3 separate regions of the Homo sapiens genome follow, and regions 1 and 3 are each linked to region 2. The links come from fine-mapping of genetic effects on gene expression. A gene starts in region 2. Each other region holds a variant in brackets. All regions are shown on one strand. Distances are between the middles of the regions.

Region 1 (8,140 bases), 25 kb after region 2:
CATTGGGCAACCCTGGCCTCAGAGCCCAGCCCTGCCTGTGGCCGGACTGCCCGAGAGAACGCTGTCTCCACTCACCCCCACACCGTTTCCCCAGAAGCCATGTCCAGCTGCCTGGGCCAGGAGTGGCCCCCTCTAGCCAAACTTGCCTGCCCTGCCTCACCCTCCCAGGACCCCCATGCCTGCTGGGGAGGGCTGGGCTCACAGTGCCCTGGCAGCCCGACCCCCGTCCTGCTGCTGCTGGGCAGGGCCCACCTTCTCCTTCCTTGGCTTGGGACAGACCCTCGCTCAGGAGAATGGGGTGGCCAGGGCCCTGGGCACTCCCATGTCTACGGGATGGCTTTGCCATGAGGGCCTGGCACTCTGGAGGCCCCCTTTCTGCATGGAGGTCTCGTCTCACCCACTCTGGGGCCCACGTCTGTGCGGCGGCGTGCACTGGTCATCCTGGCTGAGACGTCCCAGGGCAGGAAGGTGCTGGGGCCAAGGGCAGTGGGTCCAGGACTAGCTGGAGAGGCGTGACAGAGGCGAGACACAGGTGAGACACACAGGTTGGCCCCGCACTGCCTCCCACCCCCTGGGGTGTGGAGAGGGAGGGTGCAGTCTAGGTTCACCCAGGGCAGCGGGGCCAGAGCTGCGCCTCTCCCACCTTCGAGGGGAAAGGATCCCATAAACAGTAAAAGGCAGGAGCAGGGAGCGGGAGCCGGGTGAAACCCTGGGGCCTTTCTTATTGCAGGTCGGGGCCTAGGGGACCCATGGGCTGCTGGGTCTCCAATGAACAGATTTCCAACAAACAGCGAGTCCCCCAGGCAGCCTCGTGCAGCCCTGGCTTCATCCCCACACCCGGCAGCCCTGGCAGCTCCCTTTCCCTCTTTGAGCCCCAGCTGTTGGGCTCTTTCGCTGACATCCAGCCCCCAGTGGCAGCTGGGGTAGCCTCAACCATGCTGGAAATGGAAGCTGCAAGGCCAGGGACCCTAGAGGAGTCCGGTACTGCTGTGGGTCACTGCCTCCTCCTGGAGCCAGCCTGATGGCTTTTGGGCACCTCTGGGCCTCCTGACTGTGGCCCAGGAGGGAGACAGGGAGGCTGCCCCATGCAGAGGCAAATGCAGAGGTTCAGGCCCAGCCACAGGTCCGGGACCGGCCCTGCGGGTGGGCTGGTGGTGGCTCCCGCCAGCGTTTCTCACCTGAGCAGAAACCCTGGGTGTGGTGGAGGGAGGTGCTGCCCAGGCTGTGGGGTGGCTGCTCCTGGCAGGGAGTTGTGGACCAGGTGATCCAGACGCAATCCCAGCCCGCCAAGTGCGTCAGCCGCTACCACTGAGCGCCCGGGTGCAGAGGCGGTGCAGGGCGGGGATGCCGGGGTCCCCGCTCACCTCCATGCCTGGCCTGGCAGGCGGCATGAGACTGCCTCGCCCCGCCCAGTCCCACTCCCACGGTGACGCCCGCCAGGCAGTCCTGTGGGGGAGGCCCGGGCTGTGCCAGGCGATGCACCGCGTCAGCCCCTGGGGACCTCAGGCACAATGGGCACCTACTCCCTTCCCCTAGAGCAAAGGCTGAGCTCACGGCTGGCAGCTGCCCAGCTCACACCCCTCCCCACCCACTGGGGCCCTGCTCTGCAGCGTCTGTGCCCCAGGGGTCATGTCGTGCGCCTGCACCTGAGTCTGCCGTGTTTGCTGGTGCCTGCGTGTGCACAGGTGCCTCTCGGGCCTCCTGGTCTGTGTGCCCGGGAGCACGGACACAGATCCACCATGTGTGCCTCTGCGGGGACATCAGGCAGACGAGTACCCAATGCGGGGGCCAGGAATGGTGACGGCTGCGGCCATTCCGTGGGTGCCGCAGCTCAGAGGTGGGCAGGCAAGAGCACCCAAGTATGCACTGTCGGGCTCCACCAGGCAGGCCAGGGCAGGAGAAGACACAGGAGGGACTTCCCAGCCCACCTGCCAGGCTTCTCCCCTCACTGGGACAGGGTGCTGGGTGACCCAGGCTGAGCCCTGGCCTGGCCCACCTACCCCAGCTCTCATCTTGGGAGAGACTCAGCCCCTGCTTGGCAGGACCTGCAGCTCAGGTTCAGCTGTGGAACCACCACCCCCTGCACCACAGCTATGCTATGGGTGCCCAACAAGCCAGCTCCATGGCCAAGCTGAGACTTGACCCCCGATCTGGGTCTTCTGGAGGCTGACGGCAGGGGAACTGGTAGGTGACTGCTCCCCAGGCCTGCACAAGCCCACAGGAACCCAGGTGCCCCTTTGAGAGCTCTAGGCTGACAACGAGGCACGGGCACCATGAGGGACGGCGCTCAGGCCTGGCTTGTTGATGAGGGTCCGGCTCAGGTCAGGCCTTGAAGGCCCCTTGGCCGGCTGTCAGCTGGGCCAGCCCAGCTGGACACAGCGGCTCCAACAGCTGCTGTTGGGGCAGTGAGGTCGGCAGCCCCCAGTCTAGAGGGGTGGGGCCCCGTGGGGCAGGGTGGGGAGACTGTCCCAGCCAGAGAGGGGAGGCGTGCCTGGCCCTGACTTGGGCTGATTCAGACAAGGACCAGGAGGAGGCCTGGAGATAAGCCAGCCCTGGGGGAGGGGAGGCCGGGGCCAGGTGCCCGAGGGTGGACACGTCCCGGGGCTGGCCAGGGAGGAGCCTCGAGAGTGATGGGCGTGCTGGCCGGGAGGGCTTTGCTGCCGCACTCTGTTGGGGTGGCCGACTGGTGCTACTTGAGGGTTATGCGGTCCCTTCGGATCTGCACCAGCCCCTTCCTTTACAGATGAGGAAACTGAGTCATGGGAGCAGCAGCAGTGAGTCCAGGGCCTGTGGCCTCACCTCAGGGACTCTGGGGCTGGAACCCACGTCTCGGCTGAGGGCACGGTGGCAGCTGCCTCCAGTCGGGCCCCGGTGGGGACTCCGGGTCTGGAACCCGCGTCTCGGCTGAGGACACGGTGGCAGCTGCCTCCGGTCTGGGCCCCGGTGGGGACTCCGGGTCTGGAACCCGCATCTCGGCTGAGGGCACGGTGGCAGCTGCCTCTGGTCCAGGCCCTGCTGCTGTCACCGCTGGGGTCGTAACCAGGGTTTCAGGGCTGGCCCCGGAGCTGGACAGTGGCAGGCAGGGGCCAGGCGGACCTGAGACCAAGTGCTGGCCCATGAGATGCCCCTTCCACAGAGCTCTGAGACTTGGGCTCTACGAAGATCCCTGGCTGGACCAGCTGGGTATTCCCATGGCTCTGGTTGTGGGGGCTGGGGGTTGTCCGGGGCCGGCCCAGGGTCTGTGCCCAGGCCAAAGCTGCACGGTGCTTGCTGTCTGCAGGAGAGGCCGATAGGAGCCTGGACCACTGCGTCTGTCCTGGGTCCTGCTGGGGCCTCAGGGCAGGGAAGAGAGCTAGGAAAGGTCTGGGTGGCCAGACCTGTCCCTTGGAAGCCCCACTTCGGACACGTTCACGGTCATCCTTGGAGCCAGTCACTGAACATTTATTTGGAGTCCCTGGAGCCCTGCTGTAGCCAGGAGCCCAGGTTGTGGCATGGGGGACAGAGGAGGTGGGACCTGGCAGACCCACAGCTCCCAAGCTGGGGTCCCGGAGGCAGAGTGACAATGCATGGCTGTGTGGGAGCCAGGCAGGCGGTGACGTGGCAGAGCTGCCAGCAGGGGCCCAAGAGACTGCAGCAGGTTGGTGCTCACAGTGGATCTGAGGGATGGGCGTGCGTGGCAGGGCCTTGGCCATGGCCCCTGACCAACCCCTGTGCACCAAACACCACACTGAGCTCAGAATC[C/T]GGGCAGAGAGGGAACCACTGGTACAGTGAGGCCAAGGCACACGCAGCCGGGCCTGCAGACTCGAGCCCAGCAGGGACCATTAGGTCTCGGGAGGAGGCAGCTGAGGGCGACAGGATCTGCACAGAGCAGTGAGGGGCAGAGGACGCAGGGACCAGATGGGTCTCCCAGGCCAGGTGAGCCCAGAACGGCCCTTCCCAGCCCCTCTAGAGGGTAGGTTGGGGGCAGTAGCTCACCAGGCCCAGGAGCAGCCCATCCTGGAGGCAAAGCCTATCCCAAAACCTGGCCCTGCCTCTTCCTGAGGTGACCTTGAGTCCGTAAAACTGACGCCCCTGGGGTGACGCTTGAGAGCCGGAAGCTGTTCCAGGAGGAGGGAGGGGCCTCGGTTTCTCCCGGGGCATGTGGGCAGGAAGGCCCTCGGGATCCCGCATCAGTCCCACGGCCGCGGTGCGGTCGTCACCTGTGATCACGGCTGCCTGGCGCCCCCTGCCGGCCCCACCTCAGCCCTTCCTCGCAGGCCTGGCCGGGGCAACCCAGTGGGCCTGATGCTGCCTGGCACCTCGAGGCCCCAGAGCCAGTGAGCAGACGCTCGCTCGCCCATCTCCCTAGAGTCCCGCTGTGCAGCTGACACCCCCTGCCCCAGCCCCACGGCTCTCAGCTGTCCGGTTCCAGCGTCCACTCCGACAGCCACTGCAGGCAGGGGCCCCGCTGTGCCTCAGTCTCAGGGGGCTTGGTTGGGGGTGGAGGAGGCCGGCCGGGCCCAGGCAGGAGTGCGGAGGGGCTGCCTGGCCTGGGGCCCCTATCCTCGGGGTCAGGGTCGGGGGTGGCCCGTAAGGCCTGCACGAGCTGGTCCAGCGACTGCAGCAGTGTGTGGGGGCTCCAGCAGGCATCCAGGGAGGGCAGGAAGGGGTCAGGCGTGCAGACCTCCACACACTCGGTGTCCGTGGGGATGCGCAGGTAGAAAGCGTGCAGCATCATTCTGAACGGCCGGTCCTCCCGGCCCGAGACTTCTCCGTAGGTCAGGTCGCCCACCACGGGGTGGCCCAGGGCACTGCAGTGCACGCGCAGCTGGTGTGTCCGGCCTGCGGGATGAGGGCGGTGCCGGATCAAGCTGGGAGCGGGGCCGATCCACACCTATCTCCCTGACCAGGACCCACCTCCCGTCATGACCCCGCTGCAGTCTTGAAGCAGCCTCTTGGGGTGGAACTCTCCCTGTCCCCTGCCATGAGTGAGGATGACAGTATTTAGGACAGAAGATTGTGTTCAGGTCACCACTGGTGAGGACAGGGCCAGGGTGGTGCTCGGTCCTGGAGAATCTAGGCCAGCCAGACCCCCAAGGAATCAGTCAGGAGCCAGCAGGGACCCTGTGTCAGGTGAGAAGCTGAGAGGCTGCAGGGCGTGGAGTTAAGAACGCAGGAGTGCTTGTTGCCAGCTCTGCCCTGATGCTCAGGGTGGCCCAACATAAGCTTCGTGGCCCTGTGCCTCAGTTTCCCTTCTGTCACCACCAGGACACCGCCCACCCCAGACACACCCGTGAGCGGCTTCAGCAGCACTTTGGAGACAGGATCGCCTGCGTACAGCCCGTGTTCCAGAACCACGAGATCTGTGAGGCTTGGCTTTGGGTTCTCACAACCTGGGGCGCAGAAGGCAGGTGTGAGGTTAGTGGGACTGACCCGGGGCCCAGGCCCACCCCAACGCACGATGCCCGCCCGGTGGGTCCCTGCCTGCCCAGGCCCACCCCAACCCACGATGCCCGCCCGGTGGGTCCCTGCCTGCCACACCCTGCGAGCCCTCGATGCACATGGTGTGGGCCCGGCCCTCCGTGCTGTTCCTGCCAATGGCATGGCTGATGGTTACCCGGCTCTCCTGGATGTGCCCCCGCAGCTGCAGGAGAGGGAGAATCGCACGCAGTTCACGGGGCAGCCCAGTGCTGCCGGGGAGCCCACCTAACACCAAGCAACCACGTAGAGCGTGGTGGGAGGCTCTGAGCCAGGGCTGCCCAAGTGGGGTGGGAATCCTGAGTCCCCACGCCCCACCCCAGGACTGACCAGGTCTTACCAATGCCAGGTAAGCCTTGGTCACGCGCCGCTCCTTGAAGCACCTGTACGCGCTGCCGGCGGCTGCCTTGTTTAGGGCCACGCACAGCGCCCCGCTGGTGGAGAAATCCAGCTGGTGGCAGAACCTGGAGTGGGACAGAGTCCAGAGTCTGAGCCACTTTCCTCCACAGACGCCACCGTGGGGCTCCGGCCGCCCCCCCTACCTGAACCCGTAGCAGGTGTCAGGGTCGGCCAGCTCGGGAAAGCGGTACCGCAGCTGCTTCTGCAGGGTCAGAGTCTCCCGCCACGCCTTGCTGTCAATGCGAACGTCCCAGTGCTTGTTGACCACCAGGAAGTCGCGGCTCCGGTACACGATGGACAGGTTCTCCACGCTGCCTGGCTCCATGGCCGGCCTGCCGAGCCACGCGTGGGTGCGTGTGCTGTGAGCACGTGGTGCGCCCCCAGCCCAGCATACAGAGGTACCCGCACCGCCCCACCCGGGCTCCGGTGCGAAGCCACCGAGCCGGGTCCGCAGCCCTACTGTGCACCTGCATCCTCAGTCCCCGAGATCAGTCCCCAGGGCGTCAGCTGGGGAGTCAAGGAGTCAGCCTGCTCCGGGCTGACCTGAAGGGCCCTGCCTGACCTAAGCCTGGAGAAAGAGCCCGTTCCAAACCTGCCCCACAGATCCTCCCCACAGACCCTCCCCTCCAGGGGATGCACGTGAATGCCTCTGCCCGACGGTGGGGGCGGGGAGGGGCTGCAGCACTACCAGGCCCGGCAGCCAGGTCTGCCCGCAGCGCGGGTTAGGGCTGGGGCCTCCTCGCTCCCCGCAGTCCGCGCAGACCCGCGCCCCGCACAGGCCCGGTGGGCAGGCCGACCCTGGCTCCGAGCCCCTCCCGCGCCCACGCCCACGCCAAGACCAACCTGCTGCCGGGCCGTGCAGTCCAGGCCCCCGATGCCGTGCCCGGCGCCGGCTCCAGCCGCGCGCCCGCGCGCTGGCGACCCAGAGACCCTGGAAGCTCCGCTCCGGACGCCTGGCAGCGCTTCCGCCCTGCACCGCTGCGCGCGCAGCCCCGCCCCCCCCCCCGGCCCGCCCCCGGCCCGCCCCCGCCGCGGAAGGGCGGCTGCGGCGGCCAATGGCGAGCTCCCCAGGACAGGACGCGGGGGCTGCGGAGCAGGAACTCGCCCCGCCCACCCCTCGCGCAGCCCCGCCTCCGCCACGCCAACCAATGGCGCGCGCCGCCGGGCACGCCGGCTGCTGATTGGCGGCGCCCGGCACGCTCGGGGCGGGCAGTGCGCGACGGCGGCGGCGGCGCGGGAGGTTCGGAGCGGGAGCTCGGGCTCGCGGACGGTATGGAGGACTACGAGCAGGAGCTGTGCGGCGTCGAGGATGATTTCCACAACCAGTTCGCGGCCGAGCTGGAGGTGCTGGCAGAGCTGGAAGGTGGGGCGCGGCCCCCGGCCGTTGGGGAGGAGCTGCGAAAGCCGGGACAGTGGCGACCTCGGGGAGGGCGTGCCGGGGGCCGAAGGGGCCTCCACGTCGCCGCTGGCGGGATCTGCTGTCTCGGGGCGGCCGCTGACAATCTCCTCTCCCAGCAGGGGCGTCGACTCCGTCGCCCTCCGGGGTCCCCCTGTTCACCGCGGGCCGACCCCCGCGGACGTTCGAGGAGGCCCTTGCCAGAGGGGACGCGGCCTCCAGTCCCGCCCCAGCCGCATCTGTGGGCAGCAGCCAGGGCGGCGCCAGGAAGAGGCAGGTGGACGCCGACCTGCAGCCGGCCGGGTCCCTGCCCCACGGTAGGTTGGCGGCATTGCCCCAGGGCCTCCGGAGTGGGCGCGAGGCTGAGGAGGCCTCTGGTTCCCTGCATGTGTCTCCCCCAGCCCCCAGGATCAAACGGCCTAGGCTGCAGGTGGTCAAGAGGCTGAACTTCAGATCGGAGGAGATGGAGGAGCCGCCCCCTCCCGACTCCTCGCCGACGGACATCACCCCGCCGCCGAGCCCTGAGGACCTCGCAGAGCTTTGGGGCCACGGGTGTGTGGCTTGGACATGGGCGTCCCATCCCATCTGTCCAGTGGGACTCAGATGGAGCCCATCCCGTGCCCTGGATGAGGCCTGGGGGGTGGGGAGGGTTCCATGGCTGAGAGCAGTCTCGGACACCCATATCCAAGGGTGACCCCACGCTTGAGTTTCTGCCACTGAGCCCCGGTCTCTCTCCAGAGTCTCAGAAGCTGCTGCCGACGTGGGTCTCACACGGGCCTCACCAGCTGCCCGCAATCCCGTCCTGAGGCGGCCCCCCATCTTGGAGGACTACGTCCACGTGACATCCACGGAGGGCGTCCGGGCTTATCTGGTGCTGCGTGCTGACCC
Region 2 (8,168 bases):
GCAGAGATGGGGTCCCATTATGTCACCCAGGTTGGCGTGCAGTGGCGTGGTCATAGCTCGCTGCAGCCTCAAACTCCTGGGTCAAGTGATCCTCCCACCTCAGCCTAAAGTGCTGGGACTACAGGCATGCACCATCACACCTGGCTTTTGTATCTTTTTGTGTGTGTGTGCAGTGTCTGTTTAAATCTTTTGCCCATTTTTAAATAACAGCTTTACTGAGAGATAATCCACACTATACAGCTCACCCATTTACCCATTGGAAGTACCGTTCGGGCCCAGTGTGGTGGCTGCAGCCTGAAATCCTAGCATTGGGAGGTCAAGGTGGGCGGATCGCCTGAGGTCAGGAGTTCAAGACCAGTCTGATCAACATGGTGAAACCCCGTCTCTACTAAAAATACAAAAATTAGCTGGGCGTGGTGGCACACGCCTGTAATCCCAGCACTTTGGGAGGCCAAGGCGGGCTGATCACTTGAGGTCAGGAGTTTGAGACCAGCCTGGCCAACATGGTGAAACCCCGTCTCTACTAAAAATACAAAAATTAGCCGGGCGTGGTGGCGGGCGCCTGTAATCCCAGCTACTCCGGTGGCTGAGGCAGAAGAATCGCTTGAACCTGGGAGGCGGAGCTTGCAGTGAGCCGAGATCGAGCCACTGCACTCCATCCTGAGCGACAGAGGGAGACTCATCTCAAAAAAGAAAAGGAAAGAAACTCCATACCCCTTAGAAGTCAGTCCTCCTGACTGGTCTCCCTCCCGCGGGTCTTACGAAACCACTCATCTACTTCCTGTCTCTCTAAATTGACCCACTCTGGACGTTTCATCTAAAGGGACTCGTACGACGTGTCCGTGTTTCCAGGCTCAGCCGCGTTGCAGCACATATGGCCTGGGTTTTACGGGATTGTCTGTCTTATCATTGAACTGCAAATGTTCCTTGTCAATTCTGGGTATATGTCATGCAAATATTTCTCTTATTCTGTGGCTTGGCTCTTTATTTTCTTCACGGCATCATTCAAAGAGCAGCAGTGTCAGTCATGGTTTCTGCCTTCTTTCTTCCATCTAACAGGTCTTTGCCTGTTCCAAGCCCACAAACACTTCCTCTTGAATTTCCTTCTAATGGTTTTATAGTTTCAGCCTTTATACTCAGGCCTATGGTTGGCTTTGAGTAAATTTTGCATATAATATGAGGTAGGAATCTACGTTCTTTCAATCACATAGACACATAGATATGGCCGGGCATGGTGGCTCATGCCTGTAATCCCAGCACTTTGGGAGGCCGAGGTGGGCGGATCACGAGGTCAGGAGATCGAGACCATCCCAGCTAACACGGTGAAACTCCATCTCTACTTAAAAAAAAAAGCCAGGCATGGTGGCGGGCGCTTGTAGTTCCAGCTACTCAGGAGGCCGAGGCAGGAGAATGGCATGAACCTGGGAGGCGGAGGTTGCAGTGAGCGGAGATCGCGCCACTGCACTCCAGCCTGGGCGACAGAGCAAGACTCCGTCTCAGAAAAAAAAAAAATCACACAGATATTCTTATTTTTCTTCTTTCTTTCTTTCTTTTTTTTTTCAGTAGAGACGGGGTTTCATCATGTTGGCCAGGATGGTCTTGATCTCTTGACCTCATGATCCACCTCGGCCTCCCAAAGTGCTGGGATTACAGGCGTGAGCCACCACGCCTGGGCTTTTTTTTTTTTTTTTTTTTTTTTGAGATGGAGTCTCGCTCTGTTGCCCAGGCTGGAGTGCAGTGGTGCCATCTCGGCTCACTGTAAGCTCTGCCTCCCGGGTTCACGCCATTCTCCTGCCTCAGCCTCCCGAGTAGCTGGGACTACAGGCGCCCGCCACCACGCCCGGCTAATTTTTTGTATTTTTAGTAGAGACGGGGTTTCACCGTGTTAGCCAAGATGGTCTCGATCTCCTGACCTCATGATCTGCCTGCCTCGGCCTCCAAAAGTGCTGGGATTACAGGCGTGAGTCACTGCGCCCGGCATTTTTTTTTTTTTTTTTTTTTTTTTTGAGACAGGGTCTTGCTCTGTTGCCCAGGCTGGAGTGCAGTGGCGTGATCTCGACTCACTGCAACCCCTACCTCCTGGGTTCAAGTGATTCTTCTGCCTCAGCCTCCTGAGTAACTAGGATTACAGGCATGTGCCACCACGCCCAGTTAATTTTCATATTTTTAGTAGAAACGGGGTTCCTCCATGTTGGCCAGGCTGGTCTCGAACTCCTGACCTCAGGTGATCCGCCCACCTCGGCCTACCAAAGTGCTGGGATGACAGGCGTGCGCCACCACACAGGGCCTCATTTAAAGATTCTTTATAGAGATGAGGTGTCACTACGTTGCCCAGGCTGGTCTTGAACTTCTGGCCTCAACGGACCCTCCCGCATCGGCCTCCCACGGTGCTGGCTGAAGGGTGAGCCCAGGCTGGCCACAGCGCGTTTTCATCATTGTCCGCAGCTTGCAGTCGGCTGGTTCAGAGCTTAGCCGGGCACATGGGCCCCTCTGAGGCTCCTGTTCAGGGCTCAGCCGTGTCTACGGGGCCCTCCGAGCTCTTCCTGGACCCTCCTCGGCTCCTTCAGTTCAGGGCTCAGCTGGGCACGTGGGCGCCTCCTTGGCTCCTCCGGCTCAGGCCTCTCCTCGAGCTCTGGGCCCTGAGTATTCTGGGCTCCTTCCTTGGTTTCCTTTGGCCTTTGGCCGGGAAAGTTGTGGGTGTCCGTGGCAGCCTGGGCCACTTCACAGCCCCGCAGCCAACCTGCGGCTCCTTCAGAGCAAAGCTGTGTGGACACAAAGGGAACGCCACTCGGAGCTGGCCTCTCCCTTTACCTGTGAGTTCCCGCCCAAGCCGGCTGCCTTCTGTCCCCTCCCCAGAGCCCTTGGGTAACTGGTTTGCTACAAGAGTGTCTGGAATTTTTCAGTTGTTCTCTGCGGAAGGGAGTTTTTAAAAGGCCCTTAATCCCTTCTTGACATTTGTAAGTTGACGCTTACACCTGGCAGCCTTGCTGAATTCTGTGTGCGTGAAGGTCCGATTCCACCGCGAGTCACGATAGAAAACCCACTCTGTGGAGAGACCAGAGATGACCGCCGCGCACACCTCCGTTCAGCACACAAACCTTTGCAGGTGTTCATAGCGGAGGCAGATTCCGTACTGGGGATAAGAGCTCACGACATGCTGGGAGGGGTTTCAGGGGCAGGGAGGGGGCTTCTGTGGCCCCAGGTCAGGAGGAGCAGCTCTTCCATCAGCAGCAGGCAGCCAGCCCAGATGCGTAGGGAAGACAGCTCCCACTTCGCCAGGCCAGAGAGCGCCCGGGGGCAGCTCTGTTCCAGTCGACCCTGCGAGAAAGGGGTGTGCGTGTGCCTGGAGCTGGGCCCCGTCCTGCCTCCCTGACCTGTGTGCTCCCACAGCCCTGAGACGGACGGCTCACAGCCTTGCGAGGCCCACACTGCACTGGGGGTCAGGCTTGTGCTCCCGGGAGTCCTGTCTGGGCTGCGTGGCCACCATCCAGAGCCTGCTGACCTGCGACTGGGGGGGCCAGTGCTCCCTGGGTTTCAGCACCTGAGAATCAGAGTGGGATCCCGTGAAACCTGGGCCCAGGCTCCCACCCACGCCCCACACCCACCCAGGGAAGCCATGAAACCTGGGCCCGGGCTCCTACACATGCCCCACACCCACCCAGGGCAGCCGTGAAACCTGGGCCCGGGCTCCCACCCTCGCCCACCGAGGGCAGCTTTGCCTTCCTGGGCATCCCTCCTCCCCCAGGCCTGGCCCGCTGCCTGTCCAAGGCTCCTGTGCGGGGTCTCCACCCACACATTCCTGGGGCGTGAGGCGCCACCACTCCCTGCTGCCCCGGGCAAAGCCGTCATTTGTTCCCTTTGACGGCCCGGGAGGCTGCCAGGCTCTCCACCCCCACTTCCCAATTGAGGAAACCGAGGCAGAGGAGGCTCAGGTGTGGCCAATCACCCTGCACATCAGAGTTACCCTGGGCAGGGCCCACTGAGACCTGGGAGGGGCCACTCGGGACCTGGAGGGCTGGGGGCTGCCCGGGCGTTAGGGGTAAAGCTCCCTACCCAACTGCGCAGAAGGCCTCAGAGGCCTGGGGGCTGGGCTTCCCCTTTCACATCGCCCTTTAGAGGCCCACGTGTGGGCATTGGCCCGCGATCTGAAAGGGGCTGTCCTGTTCCTCATGGGCGCTGCCAGCGCCACGCACTCCTCTTTCTGCCTGGCCGGCCACTCCCGTCTGCTGTGACGCGCGGACAGAGAGCTACCGGTGGACCCACGGTGCCTCCCTCCCTGGGATCTGTAAGTAACAACCTTTGAGCTCTTCCTGTTGTGGTGTGGATGGAATCTGCACCTTCCATCTGGAGAACTGGGGCCGCCCCAGGCCGGGCTTCCAGCACCAGAGCGATGGTCAGGCTTCAGCTGGACGCAGATTTCACCCCGCAGGGCACACGCAGACCCATTTGTTTGGAAGCGGCAGTCCTAAGGCAGTGCAGGTGCCTCCACGGCCCCAGCCCAGCTCTCCTGCAGGTGTAAAGGATGCAGATTCCAGGGCCCCCCATGGCCTGCAGAGGCCCCTCAGAGCAGGAAGGGCCGGGCTCTCGGGGAGCCCCCATCCCAGGTGCTGAGGTCCTTGGGTCACATGGAGCTGGGGTGGGGAGTGCCCAGGTCCCCTGTGATCCGATGGCCACGTTTCCCTCCTGGCTTCACGCACCCCAAGGGCTGGGGGTCCCACTCACTGCCCATTTTCTGGCTGTGGGGGGGGTCTGTTTTCTTCCACCTTCTCAAGGTGTTCAGAGCCTCAGGGGCCTCCCCACTTCCTCTGGGGCCTGGGGGAGTAGAGTCTGTCACCCGGAGGCTGTGTGCCTCCCCGCGACATTCCCCAGTGGCCGGGCCGACCAGGCAGGCTCTGCCTGTGGATGGGGCTGCTGAGCATGAGCGTGTGACCCCCATTTCTGAGCTGTGGGTGGACCCACCGGGCCTGGGCCAAGGTTTTCAGGAGGCAGCTCTATTCTACTCCGCCATGGTGGCCTCCCTGAAAGGGGTGAGTGTAGAAGCCAGTTCCCTCTTCTGCGAGCCCCACCCCTACCCCAGGAGGACAATTCTTGTTCAGGGAGGGTCTCCCCACCCACTTCCCCACCCCACAGTGGCCCACAGGCCCCACCCTAGAGAGTACAAGGGGCTCCCCAGGCTGCTCACTGGCCCAGCCCCGCCCCACCTGGACTGCACCTGAAAATGGGCTCAGAGAGGCCAAGTGGCCCAAAAAGACGCTGCTGGGTGGGAAGGGGCGGTGGCCTCTGTGCCCGCAGTGCCCCTCCTGCCTCAAGGGTGTTGTCTGCCTGGCAGAGCCTGGGGTGTTCACAAAGCCCAGGCACCTGCAGCTGAGGGCAGGGGAGAGGGAAGGGAGCCACATCCAGGCGACGGGGCTGCTCGTCCTCCTGTGCGAGAGTGGGGAGACTCAGGCCAGCCCAAGTGGGCGGCGGCCCCGGTTGCTTGATCTAAGCTCTGCTCACACTGCCCTGCCCTTCTGGGAGAGGGGTGGGCGCCAACTGACTCCTGGGCTGTCTGGGCTGGGGACCGGGATCTCAGACCCAGCCCCTCCCCTGGACAGGAGGAGCCAGTCCAGGGGACAGAGGGCTCAGTGGCTGGAGGGCAGGGCCAGGGTGCGGACACAAGCTGCAGGTACCACAGAAGTTTGCTCTGGGAGCCCCTCCTGGGCCCATGTGGCCCCAGGCTGGCCCAGGACAGAGGCGTGGGGTGGGAGCAGGGGGTCCCATCCTGAGTCACTGCCCTCCACAGACACAGACCATGGCCTTGCCAACGGCTCGACCCCTGTTGGGGTCCTGTGGGACCCCCGCCCTCGGCAGCCTCCTGTTCCTGCTCTTCAGCCTCGGTGCGTACTTGATGGGGCTGCTGGTGAGGTGGGGACGGCCCAGGGGCCTTGGGGGCCAGGCCCCCAGCAAGGCTTTGCCTGCCCCTGCCTTCTCCCTGGAGTGCCTGTGGTGGCCACGTCTCAGCAGCAGTCTCTGCCCCCAGAGGTGACTGGAGCTGGAGATCCAGCCAGGGAGTGATGGGGCTCAGGACACAGTGGGGATGTCTGTGGGATGGGTGGTCTGACCGGCCAAGCAGCCGGGTCTCAGGGAAAGATGTGGAAGGCCGGGCTCCCTGGTGGAGTCCCGACCCCTGTGCCTGGGGGACTGTGATGTCACGGGGTACATGGGCCTGAGCCACTGGCTTCTCTTTGGGGTGTGCACAGGGCTGGCTGTGGGGGCGGCCAGGCTCTGCCTCCTTCCTCCCCTGGGTCAGGGCACAGCCCAGAGGCCCGCCCCCTCCCCCAAGCTGTCCCCTCTGCCCCTTTAGGATGGGTGCAGCCCTCGAGGACCCTGGCTGGAGAGACAGGGCAGGTAAGGTCCCCTCTGGGGAAACAGGGGAGGGTCTTCAGGTCCCAGGTGGGGGTGCCATGCTGTGTTCTCTCTGTCACGTATCCACGGTGCTTGCCAGTTTCCACGGTCCTTGCTTGCAAAGGGGCACCTGGACCTGCATGTGACTGGCCTGGGAGCAGCCAGGTCCAGGGAGCGGCAGAGCTGAAATTGCAGCTGGGTCTGGGAAGTAGATGGATGAGAAGCAGCCAAGCCCATGGGTCTGAGACACAGCCAGGCCTGGGAAGTAGCTGAACTCGGGGAGTACCTGGCCCAGGGGTAGCGGGACCTGGGAACTCCTGCTCCAGAGAGCTGGTCTGAGCCATGTTCAGCAGGCCCTGTGTCCCCAGGAGGCTGCGCCCCTGGACGGAGTCCTGGCCAACCCACCTAACATTTCCAGGTGGGTCTGGGGTCCTCACAGTCCTCAAGGGTGAGGCTCGAGGGGCCCTCGGGACTGAGGGTGGGCAGGGCACCCCATCCCCCAGCATCCCCTCCCCCTTCCTCCTCTGCTCCACCTCAGATCTGACTGGGCTCAGGACTGCGGGAGGGACTGACACCCCTCAGGTGATGGCAACTCCCGGCCCTTGAGGGCGTCACCTGGTCTTGGGGGGAGGTCTGCAGGGAGCACCAGGGTCCTTTGGGGAGAGGTGGGGCTGTGGGGCTTGGGGAGCACTGGGTGGACATTGCAGGGGAGGGGCGATCGTGGGTGCCCAGCCCGACCCTTCCTGCAGCCTCTCCCCTCGCCAACTCCTTGGCTTCCCGTGTGCGGAGGTGTCCGGCCTGAGCACGGAGCGTGTCCGGGAGCTGGCTGTGGCCTTGGCACAGAAGAATGTCAAGCTCTCAACAGAGCAGGTCAGTCTCAGTTGGGCTGAGGCAGGTGGGCACAGCTGGGGCTGAGGAATTCACAGGCAGCTCTGCAGTGCCCACCTTGCCACCACGGTCCCCTCTGTCCCTGCTGCCATCTCTCCCCGGCCAGTTCTTCCCAGAGTTCCTCTGGCCACCCAAGCTGACCACTGGGGTGCCTGTCCACGTCAGGGGCTGGCTCCCCAGGAGCAAGTCTGATATGACGCTGTGTGCTGGGCCCCCTCCTGGAGCGCCGTGGGCAGCCCTCCAGGCTCTGCCCCAAGGGTGAATCTTTTTCGGGGGAGTGGGTGAGATCTGGGGAAGGGGAGCGGAGCCAGGCACGGGAGCCCCCATCCCCCAGGGCAGCGCTGCAGGCGGCCAGAGATCCACTTCCACAGATTCTCGTGGCCAGGGCAGGGGTGTGTTGTGGTGGGCAGACTGGCCAGGCGACCCTGGCCCACCATGTGAGTGGCGGCTCGAAACGCTCTGTGCTGGACTCCCTGCCCCTGCAGCTGCGCTGTCTGGCTCACCGGCTCTCTGAGCCCCCCGAGGACCTGGACGCCCTCCCATTGGACCTGCTGCTATTCCTCAAGTAGGCCCTGCCCCCTGAACCCACCCCCCCGGCTTTTGCCGCCAGCCCTCAGCCCCCAACCCCCTGCCCCTTGCCTCGGATCCCAGGCCACAGCAGAGATGTGGAGGCCGGCCGGGCTGCCTCTCAGGGTGGGGACGGGTGTGATCAGTGCGGCCTGTCCCCAGCACCCTCTCTTCACAGCCCAGATGCGTTCTCGGGGCCCCAGGCCTGCACCCGTTTCTTCTCCCGCATCACGAAGGCCAATGTGGACCTGCTCCCGAGGGGGGCTCCCGAGCGACAGCGGCTGCTGCCTGCGGCTCTGGCCTGCTGGGTAGGGGCTGGGGCCAGCGCG
Region 3 (8,168 bases), 41 kb after region 2:
GGGGCCAGGAGTGGGGCTCACAGGATGGTGGGAGTGGGGCCAGGCGTGGTCTCACAGGATAGAGTGAGTGGGGCCGGGCGTGGTCTCACAGGATGGAGTGAATGGGGCCGGGCACAGTCTTACAAGATGTTGTGAGTGGGGCCGGGAGTGGGGCTCACAGGTTGGTGTGAGTGGGGCTGGGAGTGGGGCTCACAGGATGGAGTGAGTGGGGCCGGGAGTGGGGCTCACAGGATGGTGGGAGTGGGGCTGGGAGTGGGGCTCACAGGATGGTGGGAGTGGGGCTGGAAGTGGGGCTCACAGGATGGTGGGAGTGGGGCTGGGAGTGGGACTCACAGGATGGAGTGAATGGGGCTGGGCATAGTCTTACAAGATGGAGTGAGTGGGGCCGGGAGTGGGGCTCACAGGTTGGTGTGAGTGGGGCCGGGCATGGGCTCACAGGATGGTGGGAGTGGGGCTGGGAGTGGGACTCACAGGATGGAGTGAGTGGGGCTGGGCACAGTCTTACAAGATGGTGGGAGTGGGGCCGGGCGTGGTCTCACAGGATGGTGTGAGAGGGGCCGGGTGCGGGGCTCACAGGATGGTGCATTTGCCCTTTTCCACCCATGGGTTGTTCTTCATCAGGTCGGGGTTCAGGAAGGGGTCCTTGGGGATCCCGTCCTCGATCCACTTCAGCAGCCTGCGGGTGGGCGGGTGGCAGGTGAGTGGTGGCACCTGACCCCCGAGGGCCTCCTGCTGCACCTGCCTGTCGGCGGCGGTGGTCGTGGCTATGGAAATGAGCAGCCAGCGCAGGGCAGACAAATGAGAGGCAAATCAGGCAGGTGGGGCACTCACTCGGGGATGGTCTTGGACGCCATCTCCCGCTGGAAGGCCAGCTGGTACTTGAGGCTCTCCACCTCTTTCTTCATCTGTGGCACGTCCCACTCCTCCATGGGGTCAGGGGCTTCTGAAGCAGCCAGCCTGGGGCTGGAGGGCACAGGAGGAAGCCACAGGGCCGAGGCCACCAGCCTGTAGTCCCCACCCCCGCTGCTCCCCGCAGGCCTGAGCTGAACCCCGCAGGATGAAGCGGGGAGAGTCCACACCACTGCCTGGGCCAGTCCCCTAGGCGTTGCTAGGGTGCAGGGCACAGAGCGAGTTCCCACAAGGCCCCAGCTCCCGCCTCCTGCACTGGGACTAATTAACTGCAAGAAACTTTACATCCTCAGCTACTCCCCCATAGGCCCCCACACCTTACGAAGATCCCTTGCAGGCAGGAGAAAGGGTGCTCAGCACGGCAGGCCCCCAGCTCCTACCCTCCCACTGAGGCCCACGCAGGCTGACCCAGACCACGGTGTGAGGTGTGGGGCGAGGTCCTCAGGAGGTGGCCCCTGCCCCGCCCCGCTGTGTGCCCCTTTGCTTTGCATGGCAGAGCCCAGTCCAGAGCCAGGACTCCTGGACAGGAATGTTCTGCTGCAGTTTGCTTCTCTGGCAGGTGGGGTGTGTGCTCAGGATCTTGGGGGCTCAGGCTATACTACCCGAGTCTGGGATATGGGCTGTGGGTGGCCCCTGGGTCCCCAGTGTGTCTGGGAACCACACACGTTACCTGCGTGCTTTCTGCTTGTGGCCAGCCTGGGAAAGCCACAGGTTGACACCCCTCAGAACTGCCACAAGTTCGAGGCAAGTGGGGGTGGGTTGCCCCCTGCCTCTCCCCCTACCCACTCCAGGGGCCCAGGGAGTCCCTCACTCCGTCCCAACTCTGGCCCCCGTCCCCAAGGTTGGGAGACAGGGCTGAACCTTGGGAGGGTGGGTGGGGGTTGGCGTCAAGTTTCGGGGAGCCTGCCTCTGGCTGTGAAGGGGGCTCCTGGCCCAACAGTCTCCCCATCCTTTGGTCGTGCAGCTGCACCGGCCACCTAGGGAGGGGCCCAGGGCCTGAGGCTGGTGGGGTCCCGGTGGTGAATTGGGCAGACTCCCAGCAGCCAGCAGAGGGTCTGCCCGTAGTGGGGTGGGAGGCCGGGGAGCGAGCGGGGGCAGGTTTCTGGGGGAGTGATCAGGGTCATGCAGAGGATTCCCTCCCGGAGACTCTGGAGTTCCAGCACCCCTACCCGCCCCCATCCCCGGTGCAGGCCTTTTCTCGGAGACCCTACACTCAGCCCCGTGGGCGCAGGACTAGCTGCGTGCGGGTCCTCCCAGGCCCGGGGTGTTGGCGCCCCGCCCACAGCCCAGTCCTTGCTGCCCAGCCCTACCTTCGCGCAGCTGCCGCCAAGCCTGGCCACCCACCCCGTGCACCCCGTGGACGCCCCCAGCCACGGGACTCGGTGGGCACTGCAGGCGGCGCACGGCGCTCAGATGGACACAGCTCCCCCGCACCGCGAGAGCCGCCTCCCTGCCTGCAGCACCGGCTCGGGTTGGGTTTTGCTGCCTGCGGGGCAGCTGCCCTCGCCCCGGGAGTTAGGGTGAGCCCAGGGGACTGACCTGGGCCAGCTGAGAGTCGAGGGGCCTCCGGGCCCTCCCTAGCCCCGGGCGCCTGTTCATCGGACCTACCTTGAAAAGGTGACAGCGGAGGGACAATGACAACGGCCAGGCGACCGCGAGTGAGAGCGAGGGCCAAGTGATGTTCCGGGAGTCCGCCAGGCAGAGCCCTGGCTGTGCCCCGCCCCTCCCGCCACCTGGGCCCTGGCGCCGCCCCCACACCCTCCTCAGGGCTGGGCTGACCCCAGAGATAGCCTGTGCTGCCCCCTCCCCTGGGCTCACCCAGCGGATGGACATGCAGCCAGGGGCCAGTGTGGGGCTGGTCCATTTTCCCTGAGGGGCCAGCTTGGGCCCTGGTGGAGAGGTCTCCTTCCACTTGAGGGGGTGGGTTCCCCCTCCAGTGTCCTGGGCCAGCCGGGAGGAGTGGGGATGGGGCTGGGACCCTTTGCCCTCTGAAGCCTCTGCAGCCTGCAGGGTTCAGGTGACACTCAGCTGTGCCCCCCTGACAGAGGCATCCTGTGTGGGCCATGTGGCTCACCCTGGGATGTGAGCCTCTTACTGCTAGGGGCCCCGGGGCTCTGTGGAGCTCCCTGCTCCAGCCCGATCCCCTGTTCCCAGACCAGTGGCCGGCACGGGGCAGCTCCCGAGGGCAGGAGAGTGCCGTGCTTTTCAGTCTGATCTGAGCTGAGAGTGGCGGCCTGAGGCGTCCCCAACACCGGTCCACTGTGGGTGCTCTGGGGCACGCTGCCTCGGGAGAGGTGCCCCCAGCTGCAGCACTTGGGCTCGGGTTGTGTGACCTCAAGGCTCTGGGGAGAGGGCTTCCCTTTGGGGCTCCGCACCTGTCAGCCTGCAGAGCTGAGACTGGCCCCTTTTCCTCTGACACGTTTCCCCGTGTCTCCTCCCACCCTGCCCTTGGGTGTACCCCTTGGGCTCCTGTGGGAGCTGTGCCCTATGTACCAGCAGGTGACGTACATACCAGGCTGCATCCTAGGTGGGGGCGCCCAGGCAGCAACAGCAGCCTCTGGGGGCACAGGGCCAAGCTCCCCAAACAGTCCCTGCAGAAGCTGGGCCACCCCCGGGGAAGCGTGGGCCAGGCCCTCGGTGGGTGCTGGCAGGGCCAGGGGCCTGTGAGCAGGTCACTCTGCCTTCCCCAGTGTCACAGGGAACCGCCCGGCCTGCCTGGGGTGGCCCAGACCTCTGCAGGGGTTGTCGGGGAGAGGTGGGCCCTGTCCCTCTCAGGCGCTCAGGTCCCTGAAGTCACTCAGCAGGACTCCCTGCCAGTGTGACTCCGTGAATCGGGGCCACCTGCACCTCCCGCCCTGATGTGTGTCGGCTGGATCAGAGGCGCCTCTGGAACTGGGGCACATTAGGGAAGGGATTATTTTTATTATGGATTTGGGGGTGGGGTGGGGCAGCTTAAAGCCCAGGGCACGAGGCCTCCTCCTCAGGGCAGATGGTTGCCCCTCTTGGCATGGTGGGGGCTAGACGTCTCCCTGATCCCAGTGCCCGCCCTGCCCTGCCT[G/A]TGCCCCCTGGTGCTGTGACTTCGGATGCACCTTAGTTTCTGGGCTGCTGAGGGCTCTCCCTGTGGCTGGGGGCACCACTTTGGGCGCCAGAGAGTGGAATGGCTGTTAGGGGAGGGGTGTGTGCCACCCCAGGATGCAGGCAAGGCGGGGGGGACCCCAGGGCATGTCCCCCACGTTCCCTGGGACAGCAGGTGGCTTGGAGCCAGGGCCAGGCGGGGGAACACCCTGAGGTCCGCAGCTGAGTTGTGAGAGCTGGGGGTTCTGTGGCCACTCTCAGGACCCCAAGCGGCCTTTGCATCTGCTCATCTGGAAGGACCTAGGAGGTCTCCTAATGGGGTCGCCAAGGCTCCAGGTTCTGGCTTTTGGTCAATTCACTGGACCCAGTAAGGTCCCTGAGGGTGCCTGAGCTCTGTCCAACACGGCCAGTGCCCCCAGTGAATCAGGACACAGGTTGGAGTGTGGTGTGGGCCACCAGGACAGGTGAGACGGGCCGTGGGGTCACGTCCTGGAGTGAGCACTGCCCTGTGGTCCGGGCAGGTCCTGCCAGTCCTCAGCATCTCAGCAGAGAAGTGGCTGTGTGTACCTGCATGGTGGACCCGGCCTGCCTACCTGAGCAGGGTCTGGGTGACCCCCAAGGCCAAGGGCAGGAGGAGGTTGAGGGAAGTGGGGGCAGGGCCAGGGCAAGCTGAGGGTTTTGGGTCTGCTGCAGGCCCATGTCCCAGGCATGTGATGTGGGTCCCGTCTCTCACCCCACTTCTGTGGCGTTTCTGGTCGCTGGGGGGGCACCAGTCAGCCTCGGTGTCGTGTGGACCCCCAGAATCAGAAGCAGGTCCTGTGCTGACCTGGGTGGGTGCAGTAACCTCTGCTCCCGTGTGAGGGGCTGTGAGGTCCCATCCTCAGTAAGACGGGGGTCTTGAAGACTGACTTCGACCTTCCTACCAAGGCTGCACTCGGAAACCCCCAAACACATCCGGGCGCTGACGCCTTGAGCTGGAGTCAGCCTCGGGTCTGGAATCTGCCTCCCCCGGCCCTACAGCTGGACCCGGCTTCAGCGATTCTCATTGGGAGGAATGGCAGCCAGTCCCCCAACGGAGTGACCACAGCCTCCCGAGGCCAGGGGCTCCTTTCTGAAATTAGGCCACTAATTGGGCCGCTGGCTGAGAACACGCAGGGCTCTTTCCGCTGCCCTAGAAATAGCTGTCCCTGGCCCGAGGGGCTCTTGACCCACCAGGCGTGGGGCTGTGCCGCTGGGCCTGGCTTGGGGCAGGAGCATCGAGACCTCCCATTTACAGCCAACCAAGACCGTGGGGGAAGCACAGGAGGCCGGAGGCCCTTCACGCTGACTTTAGGGCTTGGTACCACACTGGCATAGGGGGCTCTGATCCCTTCCTAGCGGGAAGCTGCAGCAGGGTCTCCCGGGACTGGCCTCTCGCTGCGGCCTCAACTCCGAATGGGTGGGGGAGACAGCCCCCGACACCAGTCAACTCTCCGGGGAACAGAGGGATAAAGTGCTGAGCTGGGGACCAAGGACCAGTCCCATCCTCCACCCGCCTGTGCCCTAGGCTCTGCAGAGGGCTCTGGCTGTCCTAGGGGGACCCTGTGGCCTGCAGGACCCAAGCAGCCCGGGGGTGGTGGGTGAATGTGTGTGGAGGACACGCTGACTTCCCTCAGTCCCTGCAAACAAAACTGCAAGCGTGGGGCCTGGGGAAATAACGAAGGCAGCTCCTCACCAAAGAAACTCACTCCGCCTAGTTAACTGGAGCTCACGGCAACGACTTTTCTGTCATCTGTGAAAGTTTCAAAGTGATTTTCAAAAACAATTGAAGCTCTTAAACCCAAGCACAGAAAACACAACGGAAAACTTCAAGGGATGGGGTGGGGGGAGGGGGGAGGGATAGCATTAGGGGATATACCTGATGTTAAAAGACGAGTAAATGGGTGCAGCACACCAACATGGCACATGTATACATATGTAACAAAGCTGCACGTTGTGCACATGTACCCTAAAACTTAAAGTATAATAAAAAAAAAAAACAACTTCAAGGGAGTCCCGGGTGCGTGGCTGTCATCCACACCTGACCTCCATTGTGTAGTCAGGGGCCTGCTGGGGGCTTGGCCGTAGCCACGCTCGCGCTGCAGCCTCGGGGTAGCGTGCCTGCCTTAGCTCGGTTTACTCTGAACAGCTGCAGGTCAGTGCGTGGTTACAGTCGCCGGAGGTTTCCTACTTAAGAGACGCCCGTCTCCTGAAAAGCTAGGTATGTCTTTGCTAACCAGAAGCATGGCCTGAGGCAGGAGGTCCTGGAAGGACAGAAGCAGGCTGGGCGGTGGATCCCCACAGGCTCGGACGCCCTAGCTCCTGGCCTGAGGACTGGAGGTCAGTGTGTCACCAGGAGCAATGCCAGCTGGGCTCCCGGGGATGGGGTGCTGCCCCCATTCGGAACTTGAGTGTGTTTAAGGGGAACCGACGGGCAAAATAACAGCCTGCTGGGTTCAGAGGCCCCCACTGCCGGCTCCACCAAATTACGCTCTTCCAAGAGTACCAGCTCAGAAGTCGCAGATTTTCCAAAAGAGAGACACATTTGCTCAGCCGAGGGTGGTGGGAGGCCTTGAGGCGAGACCTTTCCAAGGTCTGTGGGGGAAGGGAAGGGAGAGTGAGTCGCGCCTTCTGCCCCAGGCCACCCTCCGGTGTGTCGTGGTCCCTGGGGCGGCTTTCCTAGGAGCCCGTGATCCGCAGGGTGGTGGCCAGAGCCGTGCAGCAGCCTGACAGGGCTTCTGGCTTTGGGAGAGTCCCTGCCCACACAGACGGACACTTGCTTTGGGATGACTAGGCTGGGTGCAGTGGCTCACACCTGTCATTCCAGCACTTTGGGAAGCTGAGGCTAGAGGATCCCTTGAGCCTGGAAGGTGGAGGCTGCAGTGAACTGTGATCATGCCACAGCTCACAACAGGGAGACCTTGTCTCAAAAAAAAAAAGGGATGACAAAGGTCCCGTGATTTTGCCTAAGGACACCTAGAAGTTAAGACGGTGTGTTCTGGCCTCTGGCTGTCCCCACGGCTTCATTCAAACATCCCGGGCTGGGTGGCCACCACTGTAAGTGCATCAGGGCCCAAGGACCCGCCTGTACCTCTAACCACAGGACATGCTGTGAATCCAGGTTGGCCTCTAAGACCCTGGATGGGTCACGCCACAGCCCATCAGGGATCCTGGGACCCCCAGTGCAGGGGATGGCCCTGCTGCTGCTTCCGGGGCTAGGGAAACCACAGAATGTCCAGTCTTCCAAATCTGATTGGCAAATGGGTTTGGCAGAGCCTAGCCAGATGCTAGGATGGCCCGAACTGACCAGAAGCCCCCGTGCAGAGGTGGCTGCTGGGGACAGCCAGGTCACCCCAACACGGGTGGGGCAGCTGCACACCCCACTTACCACCCCATGGGTCACAGGCCTCGAACGTGCATCCTGCTACGTGGAGACCAGACCACAGGTGGCCAAGCTCCGTCTCGGGAAATAAGCCTGGGGCCCTGGGCGGCCGGCACTCACTTCCTGGCTATCTCTACCACCCCATGGGGCAGGAAGACACCCGCCTGCATTTCTGAGCTCCCAACCAGCTCAGGAACAGCGCAGCCGCTCGCAAATGCAGTGTGCGAGGTACAGACCGTTCCAGGGCCTGGCCTGCGCCCACAGGGAACTCCTGCCATGCGGGCCCCTTCTCACAAGGGGACACCGCCCACCCCCAACCCCTGGGGCCCAGAGCAGCCCCAGAACAGACACAAGCATCCCAAAAAGGGGGTCACTGGGGTAGATGCACACATCTGGGGACCCTGTGTGTCATCCCAAGTGGGCCATAGCCCTGGGCATCTGGTCTTAGGTCCCAGGGCTTTGCCAGCAGAAGCCTCCAGGTGTGCAGGGTCTGTGCTAGAGGCCTCCAACCGGCCACCATGGGCTGTCCACCCGTGTGGCAGCACCCGGGTCCCTGCAGCGCCTGAGACTCCTCGCACTCAGTGGACAGCAGAGCGCCCCTGAGCAGCCTCGGTATCTGCAGATGCACAAGGCTGGCTGGGGCAGAAGCAGGGGAGGGAGGGGCTCTGAGGAAGGCGCCTGCGTCCCCACAGATCAATCACTTGATGTTTGACATGACCTGCAAACGTTTTATTTGCAAAATACAGAGAGTAGACGACAGGAAGTAGCGGCTTACACCTGTAAT

Direction of the effects. Alleles are on the strand shown, and positions count from the first base shown. SD is a standard deviation of normalised expression in the study named. Not every link is listed here.
With allele T in place of C in region 1, the expression in iPS cells of the gene that starts at base 3,845 in region 2 is higher (moderate effect, 0.42 SD a copy in iPSCORE).

Evidence for each region.
Region 1: its variant is fine-mapped to the expression of MSLN in iPS cells (iPSCORE, PIP 0.95).
Region 3: its variant is fine-mapped to the expression of MSLN in T cells (TOPMed, PIP 0.90).

Annotation. Positions count from the first base shown.
Region 1 is chr16:781,557-789,696 of GRCh38, forward strand. RPUSD1 (RNA pseudouridine synthase domain containing 1) reads right to left here and starts at 6,825. Exons shown (of 6, transcript NM_058192.3): 1 at 6,700-6,825; 2 at 6,000-6,188; 3 at 5,798-5,921; 4 at 5,521-5,623; 5 at 5,271-5,372; 6 at 3,418-4,821. The coding sequence starts at 6,181. The coding sequence ends at 4,394. It overlaps CHTF18 (chromosome transmission fidelity factor 18), which reads left to right and starts at 7,064. Exons shown (of 22, transcript NM_022092.3): 1 at 7,064-7,219; 2 at 7,375-7,569; 3 at 7,654-7,804; 4 at 7,991-8,140. The coding sequence starts at 7,129. It also overlaps the pseudogene MSLNL. RefSeq lists an enhancer at 5,291-6,098 and silencers at 6,548-6,637, 6,658-7,117, 7,298-7,357. The variant C/T (reference allele first, on the strand shown) is at 3,742.
Region 2 is chr16:756,890-765,057 of GRCh38, forward strand. It overlaps MSLN (mesothelin), which reads left to right and starts at 3,845. Exons shown (of 18, transcript NM_005823.6): 1 at 3,845-3,932; 2 at 4,184-4,285; 3 at 5,783-5,876; 4 at 6,344-6,387; 5 at 6,753-6,802; 6 at 7,134-7,254; 7 at 7,758-7,837; 8 at 8,018-8,147. The coding sequence starts at 5,792. RefSeq lists promoters at 2,426-4,275, 3,781-4,261, 3,783-3,801 and enhancers at 3,092-3,617, 3,783-3,801.
Region 3 is chr16:798,149-806,316 of GRCh38, forward strand. GNG13 (G protein subunit gamma 13) reads right to left here and starts at 2,586. Exons shown (of 3, transcript NM_016541.3): 1 at 2,518-2,586; 2 at 832-963; 3 at 1-676. The coding sequence starts at 929. The coding sequence ends at 571. RefSeq lists enhancers at 2,275-2,824, 2,825-3,374, 3,375-3,924, 4,742-5,286, 5,831-6,374. The variant G/A (reference allele first, on the strand shown) is at 3,968.